Linked DNA regions of Homo sapiens: region 1 is linked to region 2. Evidence: fine-mapped expression QTL. A gene starts in region 2. The other region holds a variant in brackets. All regions are shown on one strand. Distances are from middle to middle.

Region 1 (8,339 bases), 85 kb before region 2:
TGCAGCTAATATCAAGTACAGTTTCACAGCAAATCAATGAAACACAGTTTACATCAAATGACCAGAGAGTTGCCAATTTCTAAAAAATCCCAGCATCTCTTGTGGATTGCTGACTTCAAAGACATGCATTAAGATTATTAAGCAAGTAATGATTGATTTATTACATAACATTAAGAAATGTTTTCTTTGAAGCACAAATTAAAAGGTCATGGATGCCCAGATTTTTCTTCAGGTTGATAGTTAAAAATGCAGAATAGATAATATTGCTGGCTATGAAGGACACATGAAGGGGATTTGAAGTAACTCTCCTTTCTGGGCAATATTTTAATGAAACGCTTAATATTCTGCAGTGGATTAATGAGGCAGTTCTCTATTTTCAAACAATGGATGAACAATTAGGACCCAATCCTGAGGACAAATTGGTGTCGCTGTTATTTTGTGATGGTATTTAAAATGACCATTGCTGTAGCAACAAGGTATTATTTAACAGGAATGAAAATAACCATTTACATCAAGCATTTCAGCAGAGATATTCTGGGAAAAAAAAATGTGGCAGCTGCTGTTCCTAGAAATAAAGCTGACATTTTCGGATGAAAGCAACCAGCTGAAACCTAAACATGCTTTGTGCCGTGTTCAGAAGTCACCCGAAATGCATGCCAACGTGCTAAACACTCCCCATAAAGCCAGCAAGCTGTGGAATTTCTCACTCTGGTCTCAAAACACTCAGGGGAGAAGAGATGGGTGCAGATCTTTGAAGAGGTCAGATTTGAGAATGAACAGAATTAATTAGCCACATGAGAGTAAGGAAACCATACATCAAGTGTGGGAAAAGTTATCTACATATGGAGATTAACTGGGAAAAATTGATCTTCCAACCAAACTCAAAGTCCAATCCAAGACTACTCTAAACACCTGCATGTCCTAAATAATCAGGAACTATATTGCTCAGCAAGCTTGCATAACAATGTAAACAGAATAATAAATTGTCTCTGATTTTTCCAGTGCATTGTTATGGAAAATGAGGATGAAAATTCTACGGGTGGTCAATGAGAATAAACTATGTTTTACGCCCAAGAGTCAAATAAAAATCAGGGACTTTTCCCATACTTCTGTGAATTGTAATATATATTTACCTCAATGTCATCCCTGAGGAATATTCTTTCTAATTCTACCTCTCACACCTCTAGTCTTTTCTTCCCAGGTGCAAAGTTATTTTGCTTGCTAGTTGAGATAAGTTCTATAATTTAGTTTCCCCCCTCTTCCTCCCCCCAAAAAAAGACTATAGGACTAAATTGATAGGATGAAATGATAGGTTTAAAGAATAATTCATTATACCATCAAGATCTTGGCATGCTGATAGCTGAAAAGACTACTTTGAGCTGTCAGTTCTAAAGCACATACTTTTTCATTGTCTGACATGCCAAGTGCTTGATAGAATAATGAATTGTTCCCATTGACATCACCATCGCACGTAACTCTTGGGCTCCATGCAGCATTTTTCAGGGGTGATGAATAACATCAATGTTCTTTCCATGGTGTGTAAAACTAGGAGGATGAGGGCAGGCTCAGGGACTGCTGAAGAGGAGGATGGTGGTTTAGGGATGGAGGGAAGAATGGAGGCAAGGTCAGAGGTATCATTAAGGTCAGACACAACTGTGGTGCATGTGATAACACCTCATAATTAAAAATGTATCATTCCAACTGGGCGCTGGTGGCTCATGCCTATAATCCCAACGCTTTGGGAGGCCAAAGCAGGTGGATCACTTGAGCTCAGGAGTTCAAGACTGGCCTGGACTGTGGTGAAATCCCGTCTCTACCAAAAATACAAAAAATTAGCTGCACATGGTGGCGTGTGCCTGTTGTATTCCCAGCTGGTGAGGTGGAAGAATGGCTTCAGCCCAGGAGGCAGAGGTTGCAGTGAGCCAAGATCATGCCACTGCACTCCAGCCTGGGCAACAGAATGAGACCCCATCTTAAAAAAGAAAAACAAGAAAACATACAATTCCACATTCACATTTCGACATAATTGCAACAAAACACCATCCAAGAATTCTGCCTTTTTACTTGGGAAAGGTTTGGGGTTTGATTTTTTTCTGGCTTGGAAGCTATTTGCTGCTACTGCACTCAACTCAGAGGCCCAGCTCCCCTGGCTCAGAGATAAGAAAGACAAAAAGAAGGTACTCATATCAAAGCCATGGGGCCATTTCCCTTAGAATGGGTCATATACACATACCCAAGTTATACTCTGCTCCTAAAGCATGATCATCCTTCTCTGCATCTCCAGGGTAGGCCAAATCTGAACCACTGTAGCCAAGGGAATGTCTCCTGAAGGCTGTAAGACCCACTGAGCAAACTTGTCCAGAGCCCCTAGTAACATTAAGAACTGGAGCTACAAAATGCTTAATACTGACAGAAGTCACAATCCACAGAGCTAGGCATTAATGCATTAGGCACTTACCATTTGTGTAAATAACTTTTTTTCCTGCATTTAAAAGGCAGTCTTGGACTTTCATTAAGACTCTGGTTTCCTCTAGGCAATACCATTCAGGACACAGGCATAGGCAAGGACTTCATAACTAAAACACCAAAAGCAATGGCAACAAAAGCCAAAATAGACAAATGGGATCTAATTAAACTAAAAAGCTTCTGCACAGCAAAAGTAACTACCATCAGAGTGAACACGCAACCTACAGAATGGGAGAAAATTTTTGCAATCTACCCATCTGACAAAGGGCTAATATCCAGAATCTAAAAAGAACTTAAACAAATGTACAAGAAAAAATCAAACAACCCCATCAAAAAGTGGGCAAAGGATGTGAACAGACACTTCTCAAAAAAAGACATTTATGCAGCCAACAGACACATGAAAAAATGCTAATCATCACTGATCATCAGAGAAATGCAAATCAAAACCACAATGAGATACCATCTCACACCAGTTAGAATGGCGATCATTAAAAAGTCAGGAAACAACAGATGCTGGAGAGGATATGGAGAAATGGGAATGCTTTTACACTGTTGGTGGGAGTGTAAACCAGTGCAACCATTGTGGAAGTCAGTGTGGCGATTCCTCAGGGATCTAGAACTAGAAATCCCATTTGACCCAGCCATCCCATTACTGGGTATATACCCAAAGGACTATAAATCATGCTGCTATAAAGACACATGCACACGTATGTTTATTGTGGCACTATTCACAATAGCAAAGACTTGGAACTAACCCAAATGTCCATCAATGATAGACTGGATTAAGAAAATGTGGCACATATACACTATGGAATACTATGCAGCCATAAAAAAGGATGAGTTCATGTCCTTTGCAGGGACATGGACACAGCTGGAAACCATCATTCTGAGCAAAGTATCACAAGGACAGAAAACCAAACACCGCATGTTCTCACTTATAGATGGAAATTGAACAATGAGAACACTGGGACCCAGGGTGGGGAACATCACACACTGGGGCCTGTCATGGGGTGGGGGGCAGAGGAAGGGATAGCATTAGGAGAAATACCTAATGTAAATGACGAGTTAATGGGTGCAGCAAACCAACATGGCACATGTATACCTATGTAAAAAACCCGCACGTTGTCCACATGTACCCTAGAACTTAAAATATAATTACAAAAAAAAAAAAAAAAGACTCTGGTTTCCAGATAGGGCCTTCTCTGGTTTCCAGGTAGGGGCTTTCTCTACCACATTCACCCAAGTAGTGAGTATTATAGTAATAACACCTGCTTCAGGAGTTCCCCTCCCCCTCCACTAAACAGCAATTAATTTTCTTAATTTTGTTATTTCAAAAAAAAAAAGGGGGCAGTTTTCGTTTCCCCTCTCTTGGTAGACATTTTCCTACTATCATTGAAAACACTGGATTATGTGAGTATTTCTTTCTGTCTCAGCCCATCTCTAAATACAAGTAGATG[A/T]ATAATCCCCCCACTAACATGGGGTTAAGAACACATGCATTTTATATAAAGACTTTAGGATAAGGCACAGAAGAACCATTTTTCCATCAGAGCCACGAAGTGGCTATTTTATATAACATGAGTTCACATGTGTGCATATATTTGTATATATCCACATTTAATTTGTCATTTCATCATAGACTTGATGAGCAGAAGTCTAGACAAGATAGTTAGAGCTCAGATAACGTGTCCAAACTCCTCACTGAAAAGCTGAGAATGCTGAGGCCTGGGGAGGAAGGTTGGCAGACAGAGCCTTTTTAGTTAGTGAAGTTCTCAGATGATGTTGATAAAACTACCACAAGGCAAAAGTTCCAGTCCTGCAGCCCTGGAGCATCTGCCAGTTTTCCCAGGGGGGCATCATTTGCCATCTGCTCTCACCCTTCTCACTGAGGGTCTACCTCTCAGACTGTCAACCCATTACAGGGCCAAACATTCTGGGGTTGTAGACCTCAGTGGCCATTGGCATCATGGCATCTCAGATTAAAGTTTGGCACCTACACAAAGGTTTCTCTGGGGTACATGGGCACATGGCCTTGGCTTCCTATATGTCTGCATCTTCTTCCTGCTCTTCCTCCTCTCCCTGCTGCCTTACTATTTATCGAGGCCTTGCCAGATGCCAGGCATTAATTGTGCTTTCTTACATTTCCCTGGGAAGAAGCTCCCCTGACTACACTACCCCTCAGTCTAAAGCGTTTCTCCTGGTCAGGAACATTGTTGAGTTTAGCCTAGACTGGGCATGATGACTCACACCTGTAATCCCAGCACTTTGGGAGGTCGAGGCAGGCAGATGGCTTGAGTCCAGAAGTTCAAGACCAGCCTGGGCGACATGGTGAAACCACATCTCCACCAATAACAGAAAATAAATTAGCCGGGCTTGGTGGCACATGCCTGTAGTACCAGCTACTTGGGAGACTGAGATGGGAGATCACATAAGCCCAGGAGGTAGAGGCTTCAGTGAGCAGTGATTGTGCCACTGTACTCCAGCCTGGGTGACACAGGGAAACCCTGTCTCAAAAAAAAAGTTTAGTCTAAAGCTGCCTTCTCACATATTTAAAGTTCAGCCTAAAGGTTTCTACGTAGATGGGAAACTGTATCCTATGATGGAGGTGTAAACAAATTGTAGCCTACTCTTGTGCCAATCACAGGGGCAATCGAAGGGGGCCAACTGTTCAAACCATGTTAAAACAAGACAAACACCAGGCTGTAACTAATCTGGCTGTTTCTTTACCTCACTTTGGCTTTCTGTCTATCACTTTCCTTTTTCTGTCCATAAATCTTCCACCATGTGGCTGCACTGGAGTCTCTCTGAGCCTACTCTGGCTCCGGAGACTGCCTGATTCCCGAATGTCCTTTGCTCAATTAAACTCTGTTAAATTTAATGTGGCTAAGGTTTTCCTTTTAGCAACATATTCTTTCCCTTCAGGGTACTTCTCTCCCGTTATCCTTACATACTCTCACTTGTGTGATTACCTGACTAATATCAGTCTCCCCTATTCCTTACCATTGTGTTCTCAGCAGAGTGCCTCATACCTGGAATGAACAAATAGCTCCTCACAACCACCTGATGAGGTTGGGTCCCTTAATACCCTCCATTTACAGATGAGAAAGCTGAGGCTCAGTGAGCTTAAGTGGTTTGCCTTAGGTGTACATGTAAAAAGTAGCAGCACGGGGTGCATTTGAGGCCAGAGCCCATACTTTCACCCGTCTCCCACACTGCCACTCCTCATGAGTCTGCAAAACCCCTCTAATTTCTGTCAAGATGTCATCTGCATGCACTTGCCAAACATCACTCACTACCTTATGGAAGACTCTCGGTGGATGTCAAGATGTCTTAATGGGTGAAGCGGGTGTTATCTTCAGGCTAACTTGGGTTCTCTTCCAAGGGTCAGGCACAGATCCCAACAGAGTAAATCCAAATTCTGCTACGATGTCTTACCACAGGGGTCTTCACTTGGACAAGATGCTGTTACCTAAGAAGCAACTAGTCAAGTCATTTCTGCAGGACTCCTGGCTGATGGGTGCTATCAAGTTCCAACAGGAAAGCAGACTTTTACACCACAGACTTTTAAGTGCTATTAGAATTAAACAGAAGGAGGAGGAAGAAAGGAACAAGAAGGAGAAGAAAGACAAAGAGAAGGAGAGCATATTTCCCAGCTATGGCCCTTTTCACTACTTTAAAAGCAAAACCATCAAAGAATGGGCACCTTTCTATGGGTATGACTTTTATCCCCTTGTCCTCTAGATTTATTGCTTGCACCACGTAGCTTCCACCATAAAACTCTTCTTTCCAATAGACTGCTATCTGAATATCAAGAGCAAGACTCTCCAGTAACATATAATCTAGTAAAAAGTAAATATGATAGAATAACAAAGCGATTTCTGAAGGCAATTTATTTGCATAGAGATACCTGAGAGGGAAAACCAAAATTCCATCTCAGAATCTGGTAATAATGTACTATGAGATGCTCCATCATCACATCTTACTTCTAATTTTACAGAAAAGCAGTTGTAGCAACTGGAAGAAAACCTCTCAGTCTCATTTCTGCAAGGTGAACCATAAACACTTCTAAATGCCTCATGGGTAAACTCTCTCCCAGCACATTGCTGAATATCACTTGAATATTTGAAAAACGATATGTAGACAAAGATATTTTTCTAGAGGATTTACATTTTCCCATCAATGTAGAATTGCCCTTGCTGTGAATAAGTACTTGCTTTCTTTTCTCCCCATTTTCCACGTGCCTTAAGGGTTTGAAGGGTTGCTATGGATGATGTTTACTTGTTTCCTTAGTTTTTCCATTTTCCTCCTCATCCTGCCTTATTTTAGCTGGCTTTCAAATGTTAATCCTGGCCTTTCCCTGCCTCACCTTAGGTCTGTTCAATGTGTCCCTAGTACTACTCTCATTTCACTAGTCACCTGCTTCACTAGTCACATGGCTATACCACTTTAACTTCGGGTTTTCTTCTGGGACTTGCAACAGTCACCTTAAACTTCATCCCCTACCTGCTGATTCCTCATCCAATGGCCTTATATCAAACTGGCCTGATTTTGCTGGCACCTTTACTTAACACTGTGCCCGACTTGGATTTCCACCCAAGACAGGAGACACTTCCGCTGAATTGTGTCCTTGCCATTTACTCTCCAGATTTCTCTGGAAACTACGATTACTTTTTGCCTACTCTTGTCCTGCTGATTGAATGACCTCAGCTTGAGAGGCAACAACACAGTGATGTAACTGGCTGGCATTCAACTTGGAGTAAGACAACAAAGGTCCAAATCCCTCAACCTTAGTTTGCTTGCATCTCCATGGTGTAGTATGGGGAGAATAATACCTGCAGTGTTGGCATTGCTGTAGCAGTGAAGTTCTTTCAGATTGTAAGGATGAGCTAATCCAATCCATAACCTAAATGTACTAGCAGCTTCATGGATAACTGGAAAGTGACTCATAATTGTACCCCATAGAGGAGGAACCCCAGTAGCTCAGATCTGGTGTCTTTGTCCCAGGAACTTTGGCATTCTCTTTGCACCTCACCTTCAAATGTCCCCAGCAGAATGGCTCTGGATGGGTCATTTATTTACCGTTTATCTCGCAGCCTCTTGATTGAATAGACTTTGGCTCAGCTGTTGATTCCTGGTCCAATTAACAAGAACCAGGTATCACAGTTGATTTAACTCAACAAATAAGATGCAACTGACCAGAACAACTGCATGGTGAAGGCACTGCCTGGTCCCCCTTTCCCCAGAAGGCGGCTTTAGCCATGGCAAATGCTTAGGGTAGCCTGCCTGGAGTGGGATTCTTGCAACACCAATCCTCATACCTCTTGAAGAAAAGATTCCATGGTCAAATAAACTTGCATACAGTGCATATGACATCTTCCTGTTTAGAGATTCACAATGCACATACATCAAAGGTGCTGAGAAGTCCTGCAATAAACTTGCTTTAAATTGACTTAAGGAAGCATTTATCAAATAACTATTTATATATTTAGAGACCGAGTCTCGCTCTGTTGCCAGGCTGCAGTGCAGTGGCGGGATCTCAGCTCACTGCAACCTCTGCCTCCCAAGTTCAAGCGATTTTCCTGCCTCAGCCTCCCAAGTGGTTGGGACTACAGGTGCATGCCACTATGCCCAGCTAATTTTTGTACTTTTAGTAGAGACGGGGTTTCACCATGTTGGCCAGGATGGTCTCGATTTCTTGACCTCGCGATCAGCCTGCCTCAGCCTCCTAAAGTGCTGGGATTACAGGCATGAGCCACCACGCCCAGCTGTAACCCATTTTTTTGTGGAACATCTTATGGACACTCAGTGGAAGATACTTTGGCAAATTCTGGCTTAGACCTCATGAACTGTCTATTGCCACCAGCTTCATCAGTGTC
Region 2 (8,339 bases):
GATTTTGCTGGAGGTTTTGATACCACTGGACTCTTCTGAATGGTCTGGACATCAGTTGGCGAGAGAAAGGCACTGAAGAAATTTTCAGATTCATCGACCACAGTCCTCCGAACTGGCTTTGTGATTGCTTTAGGAGAGGCTATTGGTGGACTCTGAGGTTCAGTGTTTGATTTCAACCCCCAGGTTGAAGTATCCCATCCTCCACTGACAGGGGAACTTATTCCTTTAACAAAAAAGTAAATATTAAAAAAGAACACATATATGTTACATTAATATTTCAATCATCATTATAAATCAGTATAAATATAAATTTAGAAAAAATACCCTATGAAATACCTGTAATTTGCACCTGCTAAACTCCTTGCTTACTACATCATTAAGTAGTTTCCAAGTTAATACAGGGACTTACGGAAGAAAACTGGTGTGGGTCCACCTGAGAGGAAGGAGGAGCACAGACAAAAGACTGGGCCTGGCCTGGACTACCAGATGCGAGTATGTTATTCCTCCCCACAACAAATTAAGGAAGTAACAGTATATGTTTTATAACCCACAGTAAGTCCAAGATACCTATGATTCATCTCATAATAACACGCTTTACTTATCAATATGAAATAAACTAATATGGAACTAACTGAATAGGTTGGGCCATGTGCAGTCACAGAAAAATGACCCTACCTATTCAGTCAGTTTCATATTAATTTTTACTTGTAATATCAGTAATATAGTTATGAGCTAGACAAAGGGCAACACTCAAAAACTGAACTCAGTGGGTATGGAGGTTCACACCTATAATCCCAACACTAGAAGAGTCATTTGAGTCCAGGAGTTCAAGACAAGCCTGGGCAACATAGTGAGACCCCTGTCCCTACAAAAAAATTTTTTTAATTAGCTGGGCCTGGTGGCCCACATATGTGGTCCCAGCTACTCAGGAGGCTGAGGTGGGAAGATCATCTGAGCCCAGGAGGTGGAAGCTGCAGTGAGCCATGATCAAACCACTGCACTTCAGCCTGGGTGACAGATCGAGAACCTGTCTCGAAAACAAACAAAACAACAAAAGCCTCAAACCAAGATAATGGTGACAAATGTTCTTTCCCGAAGATCATATTAAACTGATGGGAATGGTAAGTTCTAGAGAACAAATTCATTTTCATCCACTTAATCACAGGCTGATTCTCTAAATCCCACTCTCCAAGCCCACTCTAAGAGGAAGTTTTGTTCTCAAATTCTAAATTATGTCAGAAATTACAAGGTCATTATAAATTTCAGAAATGTGTGTTTTTTTAAGAACTATTGCTCTTTGACATAGAGGTGGTTGACACTAGGGTTTTTAAAAAAGCGCTACAAAGAAAATGACTGTTTTCTTGGGGAAAAAGTTAATTATCATATCAGTCATACAAATAGCTACTACTAAAATCCTGATTTTTAAAAATGGCATAATCAGGATCTTAAAAATGGTATATTCGTTAAAGTATTTAAAGCATTTCTTTAAAAATGTTTTCTTTTTCAAATTAAAATGTGGCTGAACAAAATATTCACAAAATATTCACAATTAGAAGTTGGTGGAGAGAGCACAAGTAACTAAAAGCTTCTAAAAACTATCAAGCCTTATAGTAGAATCTATCCTTTAATATGACTTCAGGCCAGGCGCAGTGGCTCACGCTTGTAATCTCAGCACTTTGGGAGGCCGAGGCGGGCGGACCACCTGAGGTCAGGAGTTCAAGACCAGCCTGGCCAACATGGTAAAACCCTGTCTCTACTAAAATTACAAAAATTAGGCAGGTGTGGTGACGCAAACCTGCAATCCCAGCTACTCGGGAGGTTGAGGCACGAGAATCACTTGAGCTCAGGAGACAGAATCTGCAGTGAACAGAGATGGCACCACTGCACTCCAGCCTGGATGACAGAGTGAGACTGTGTCTCAAAAAAAAAAAAAACAAAAAAACAAATATATATATATGTAAATATATGTATGACTTCAAAGGCAGTTAGGATGAAAAGTATGTAGAAAACTTCAGTTTGGAGGCATAGTTCTACACATTCATTTGCACAATATCCAAACCAGAGAAAATCAAAATTAAATATGCAAATGAACAACCAAGATTATGTCTGATTAATTTAAATACATTCAAAAGATGACAGGAATTAATTTTGCCTCTTGGAGAATACTTTATATAATCCCAGGGTTATTTGGTATCCATCTAAATTATACCATTCTGAAGACTATGGGCATTTTCCGAAAACAAATATCCTTATATGTAAAACCTATATTCTATCTTATCTAAAGTTTAGTAATTCTAATTAACTGGGGCACATATGAAAAAACAGAGTTACTCCAGCAAGGTTATATGACATCTTGTAAAAAGTAAAGAGGATCATCACATACACACATGGACCAAAATATCTTAAACTGAGGTACCTCAAATTTAGGTCCTGACTTTTCAATGATGTAAAATTAAGAACAGAAACCAGAAAGGAGTAGTCAAGTACATCTCTTATCCTTTTTCACACAAAGGTTCACATCCCCCAACACCAGCAAATCTTTACCCCACACATCAAATGCTGAACTGTTCCTTAGACTTAAGAGTCAAAAGCAACTGAATGAAGATCCCTGAAAGATTAAGCTCAATGAAACTGCAAAGAGAGACTTGGCTATTCAGAAATAAAATGTGATACCATCCAGAAATCTTGGGTCACACATTTTCCGGCTAATACCTCCGGCACATTCTAATCCTCCTCCGCCGTGTGACCTAGAGCAAGTTACTTGGCCATTCTGGGCCTCATTTTCCTCTTATGTAAAACACGGATATAAACCAAGCTCTCTCTGGGAGTTGTTCTGAAGATGAGAAGGCCATAAAAAAGCACATTACAGGCTCGTGCCTGTAATCCCAGCACTTTAGGAGGCCGAGGTGGGTGGATCGCCTTAAGTCAGGAGTTCCACCAGCCTGGCCAACATAGTGAAACCCCGTCCCTACTAAAAATACAAAAAGTTGCCGGGCGTGGTGGTGGGCGCCTGTAATCCCAGCTACTAGGGAGGCTGGGGAAGGAGAATCGCTAGAACCTGGGAGGCGGAGGTTGCAGTGAGCCGAGATCGCGCCACTGCACTCCAGCCTGGGCGACGGAGTGAGACTCCGTCTCAACAACAACATAAAACCACATTACGCGCTACCAAGCGCGAAATGTTCACTGACTGTTAGCGATTGTTCTTCCCTTCCCTGATGATTTACGTACTTCAGACCTTGGATCCCAACAGTGCCCGAGACGCGAAGCAATTCGAGGTTCAGGTTCGGGAAGGTTGTGCTTGGAAGCTGCGTCGAGGGAGAGCTTGAGGGCAAGACCAACCAACCAAGTCCCCTGTCATCCAAGTCCACAAGCCTCGCACCCAGGACCAAAGAAAGACAAGGGGGAACCTGGATCTGGGTTTTCCCTCAGGAAAACAGCAAAGACCGACTTGGAGGCTGAAGCAGCATTAGGGAACGGGCCGGGGAGAAATTACTTCCTGAAAACTCTCTCAGCAAGGAAGGACCCCTCTCTACACCACTTAACCTGCCTGCATCAAGAGAACAGCAGCCTCCGGGAGCCAGGAACCCCGCTCCTCTCTCTCTTACCCGGCTCTCCATACGGAATGGTCTCGGCCCAGATGCTCGGCTCCTCTTCCTGGATGTCCAGAACCCTGTCAATAGACTTCTGGGCCTGGGACAGGGCCTGCTTAGCGAAGCTGGAGAGCTGGGAGGCGTTGAACCAACTCATCGCCCCTCCTCAGCCGGCAGTGGCGGCGGCAGCACCAAGCGGGAAGGCCTCAGGCCTGGGGAAGGGTGCAGAGGAACGGCTTCGCTCCCCTTTTCCACTCGGCTGGTTCTGTCAGCGTGTGGCCATTACCCCGACAGCCTCCCGCGAGCCCGGGATGTTACCCTCGGCCGTTCCCGCACAGCTGAGACGAAGGGGGCCCATGTGCGCATGCGCTTGCTTCTTCCACGTACACAGCAACCAAATCTACGAGCCCAGAGTTCGGTCGACAGACGGAAGAACAGAAGAACGTTGACGTCACATCCGGGAGCGCAGGGTTGCCGTTAGTTACCGAGGAACGCGGAAGGGTTTCTATTGATGTCGATTTCGTGCTTACAGCAGTTCTTAGCGAAGGGGAAGCTATGGCTACCGATAGAGGTCGATTTCCCCGGAAGGAATATTCAAGTTTTCGTGTGTGTGCTTTCCAGGAAAATAGTTCACGTGCTAAAAGCTTGCACCTTGCCAGCAATAATTGCAAAGGGAAATTGGGCCTCACACTTCTCTTAGCCCTTTGTCTCAAATATTTAATAAGCTCTGTATTAACTTGGTATTGTAAGGAGAAACACTTGTTTGGGCTTGCCTAAAAGACAGGATCACGTATGAACACTGTGTCCAACTCGTGGAACACATGGTGCATAAAGCACAACCTCTCTCTCAAAATAGTAGTAAACTCATTGCTGCAGTCAAAATACCCCTAATACTGTGGTCTGTCGGTGTCCCCTGCACAAATTCCTATGTTGAAACCTAATCTCCAATGGGACAGTATTAAGGGGAGCCTTTAGGAGATGATTAGATGATGATGGAGCCCTCATAAATGGGGTTAGTGCCCTTATAAGAGAGGCCCAAGGGAGCTCACGGCAAGAAGGCACCAACTCTAAGCCAGAATAGCAGCCCTCACCAGACACCAAATCTGCCGGCTCCTTATCTTGGACTTCTCAGCCTCTAGAACTGTTAAGAAACAAATTGCTACTGCTTATAAGCCACCCAGTTTATGGCAATTTGTTACAGCAGTCCAAATGGACTAAGACACCTAGGAAGCACTAAAGCTGTTATCCTAACAATGTGCACTGTGCATATTACTTAAAACATAACCTTTTCTGTGTGCATTCTCTTCGAACATTTGGACATGGGAAAATACCTTAAATTGGTGGCCTTCCTAATCCAGTCTGCAGCTATATTTGGTTTGGGCCCAAGTTAAAGACAAAATCCTAACTAAAAGCCAGATTTCATTCAAAAATCTAGATTTCCAGCTGCTTTTGAAAAATATGAATACCAAGCATGGGAATAGTCAGCCAGAGTGGTCACCAAATAATTTTCACTCACTCCAGTTTGCCACAGACCCCTATCACTCATCCTATTACACCCTCCCTGCTGTGATTATTTACCTTATATGCCTGCCTCCCATATTTGAATATTTTACCCCACTGCAAGGAACTCTGCAAAAAAGAATTATTTTTCTTTTAAAAAATCAGATTGAACCCCTTAAGAAGTTATAATCATCTTCCAATAATTTTATCTAACTACAGTAAAAACTTGCATGTTAAAACTAACAATTTAGTCATGTACACAAGTAGTACCAAGTAACTCAAGTACTTTCAAACAGCTAAGTAGTCTGCAGAGGAGATTTGGGGCAGATTCGGGTTGAAATTAGCTGTACAGTTACAGTTCCAAGACTTCTAATTGTACAGCTTTGGTGAAATGACCTACCTAAACCATCTAAAACTATTTATTCAGCTCTCAGATAGAGTCACCTTCTTACAATGCTACTTTGAGAATTATTATAGCACCTATATGGTGCTAAATTTTAGTTCCTTCACTTTCAAAATTGTAAGCTACACCTGTAACTTTTCAGGTAGAGCTTATAAATTTATTCCGTATGGTTTTATAATAAAACTTATTTGTCAATATGTAGCTAGAAAGATTACTGAAAACTTAACTCAGTGACACATAAGTAACCAAAAAACATTTGAACAGAAAACTGCCATATCTAAGTCAAAAACAAAGAATGAGAACACATACATGTTCTCATATTAAAATACTAGCACCTACTTTTTTAGTATTTGTACTTAATTTTGTTTGAAGTTTTATTCACTTAAAAGAAACAAAAACATGGTCAGGCATGGTGGCTCATGCCTGTAATCCCAGCACTTTGGGAAGCCGAGGGGGGCGGGGGGGGGTGGATCACCTGAGGTCAGGAGTTTGAGACCAGCCTGGCCAACGTGGTGAAACCCCGTCCCTACTAAAAATACAAAAAATTAGCCGTGCATGGTGGCAGGCGCCTGTAATCCCAGTTACTCCGGAGGCTGAGGCAGGAGAATTGCCTGAACCGGGGAGGCAGAGGTTGCAGTGAGCTGAGGTTGCATCATCGCACTCCAGCCTGGGCAACAAGAGCGAAACTCTGTCGCAAAAAAAAAAAAAAAAAAAATTATATTGATACAGAAAGTTAAATTAAACCAGTAAATTTTTACTATAGAAATTGCTGTAGCAAAAGTATTAAGTGCAATAAAAATTTGATATAACTCTGCTACACATTTAAAAATTATTCCTATATTACCATGGAACTACTGATTACCCTTAATGTACTTTTAAAAACTTCAGTGAAAGAAGTACACAATATATGATTTTATTAATAAATAGTGCAAAAGCATCAGTGATAACTGTTTGAACATTAAATTTTTTAAACAGCCATGTCTTGGCATTAGTTAATATTGTGCATATTGGCCTCTATGGCACTACAAGTAAACAGATGAAAATATTGCCCATTTTCATGCACAGGTATTCAGCTATAACACCATTTACAAATCATTATGAACAAGATAAATTCTGCAATAATATTCATTTGGATGGCCACAATTAAATGAGTGTTATATCAAGAAATAGCCTATGTTCAATATACTCCAGATGTCAGATTGTAAAATGTAATGTTATTTAAAACTTAATTCTTTATTTTCCTTAAAGGGACACCTTTTGTGTATTTGGGTACTCAAATGAAAACTTAGGAATGCATTCTTTGACCATAATAACAAAATTCACACAAAAGAGGTTGTATGCTTCCTCCTCTAAAAGAAGCAATACATTTGCTCATAATCTCTCTCTCCAGGTATCATTTCTCATATTATTAATGAAAATGCTTACAAGCACCAACACCAAAATTCTGTCTTCAAGGGAAGGTTACAAAGTTAAAAAAGAGTGGTTCATTATATAAAAAAAGACAAATCGTGGCAACACTATTGCTAAAAATGACATCGATTCAACTTCTTAGCATCCACAAAGTATATTATTTCCATGAGTTTTCTATTATGTGGAGATTTTCCTTAAGAAGTAAAATGAAGTTTGAATAGTACAGTCTGTGGGGTGGTGACATCAGCAACCGCCAGTTCTTGTCCATCAACAAGCCCCAATTCTAAAACAGAAAAAATATTATTAATACAAGCAAAAAAAACTCAACAGAAAGGATAATACACATGTAAACAAACTACAGAGTATTACGGTCTAGAAAAACATCAAAATCCAATCCTCTTTAATCAAAGTAATATTTGATTTCTTAGAGATTTTAAAATATTCTACTAAAAGAGCAATTAATTCTATTAATATGTCTAAAGTTGTAAGTAATTATTACCTGACCATATACAAGGCATTAAGAGGAAATCTAGAACAAGCACTGATTACTTTCACCAAAAAGAGAGAAAAGAAAGAAAATGATTAGTAAATACCCTTATGTAAAATACCTTTCAATGTTTTGGAGAGATTTGGCCTTGTTCGTTCTTCAATAGAGGTTACCGACTAGAAAACAAAATTACTTTAATGTAAGACACATTAAAGTAAAATAAAACTTGATATAATTTTCTGAAAAAAATTTAAAATACACATTGATAACCTGTAAGTAAAGTGTTCTATTTTTTCCCTCTAGGGTGGCTGTGATGGCTGGAGATTTCATTTGCCTAAAGATTATGATGAGAGAGAAGTATCAAACATAATTTTTATCAAAAGATAATTTTTTTAAGGTTTCAAAAATCACAAAAATGATTTTTACAACATAACAAAAATCTACAATACTTACAGAGAAGCACTATTGGTTAGATAATCCAAAACCTCCTGTAGTTTAGCTGATGGAGAAAACTGAATATTTTGAGGAAGCTGGCTACAAGCTGGGCAGTTTTCCTACACACATAATACACAACAAATTACAGCAGCACATGCACCAATATTAGTCTCTTTTATGAACAATAAAATAAAAATCAGGTTGTTTTATAATCATGCATATTTCCTATAAAAAAATTTTTATGCTTTAAAGCCTGCTTTTCATAATAGACCATTTCTTGTAAATTACTTCGCTATAGAGTTATTTCAGGCTATAAAGCAAAAGATATATAATAAGTAGAGTTCTGGAAGTTAGAAAATGTATGGGTGACTTTGTTCAAATTTCTAACCAATAATATTTAAAAATCAAAATATGCATGATCAAAAATGTGTTCTTAATACTACTAACCTTTCTTTCTGCTTCAAATGTGTATGTATACAGCCCATCTACATCATTAAACACCAAGTAATTATTC

The links. PIP is the estimated chance that this variant, and not a neighbour inherited with it, causes the effect.
Region 1: its variant is fine-mapped to the expression of TMF1 in lung (TOPMed, PIP 0.99).

Annotation. Positions count from the first base shown.
Region 1 is chr3:68,963,496-68,971,834 of GRCh38, forward strand. No RefSeq gene overlaps it. Among named protein-coding and RNA genes, the nearest start is that of TAFA4, 35 kb to the left of the region's middle. The variant A/T (reference allele first, on the strand shown) is at 3,924.
Region 2 is chr3:69,048,340-69,056,678 of GRCh38, forward strand. It overlaps TMF1 (TATA element modulatory factor 1), which reads right to left and starts at 3,994. Exons shown (of 17, transcript NM_007114.3): 1 at 3,606-3,994; 2 at 1-223. The coding sequence starts at 3,747. It overlaps UBA3 (ubiquitin like modifier activating enzyme 3), which reads right to left. Exons shown (of 18, transcript NM_003968.4): 14 at 8,273-8,339; 15 at 7,844-7,944; 16 at 7,661-7,724; 17 at 7,512-7,566; 18 at 6,391-7,186. The coding sequence ends at 7,098. MIR3136 (microRNA 3136) reads right to left here and starts at 696; the gene lies at 619-696. RefSeq lists an enhancer at 3,586-4,055.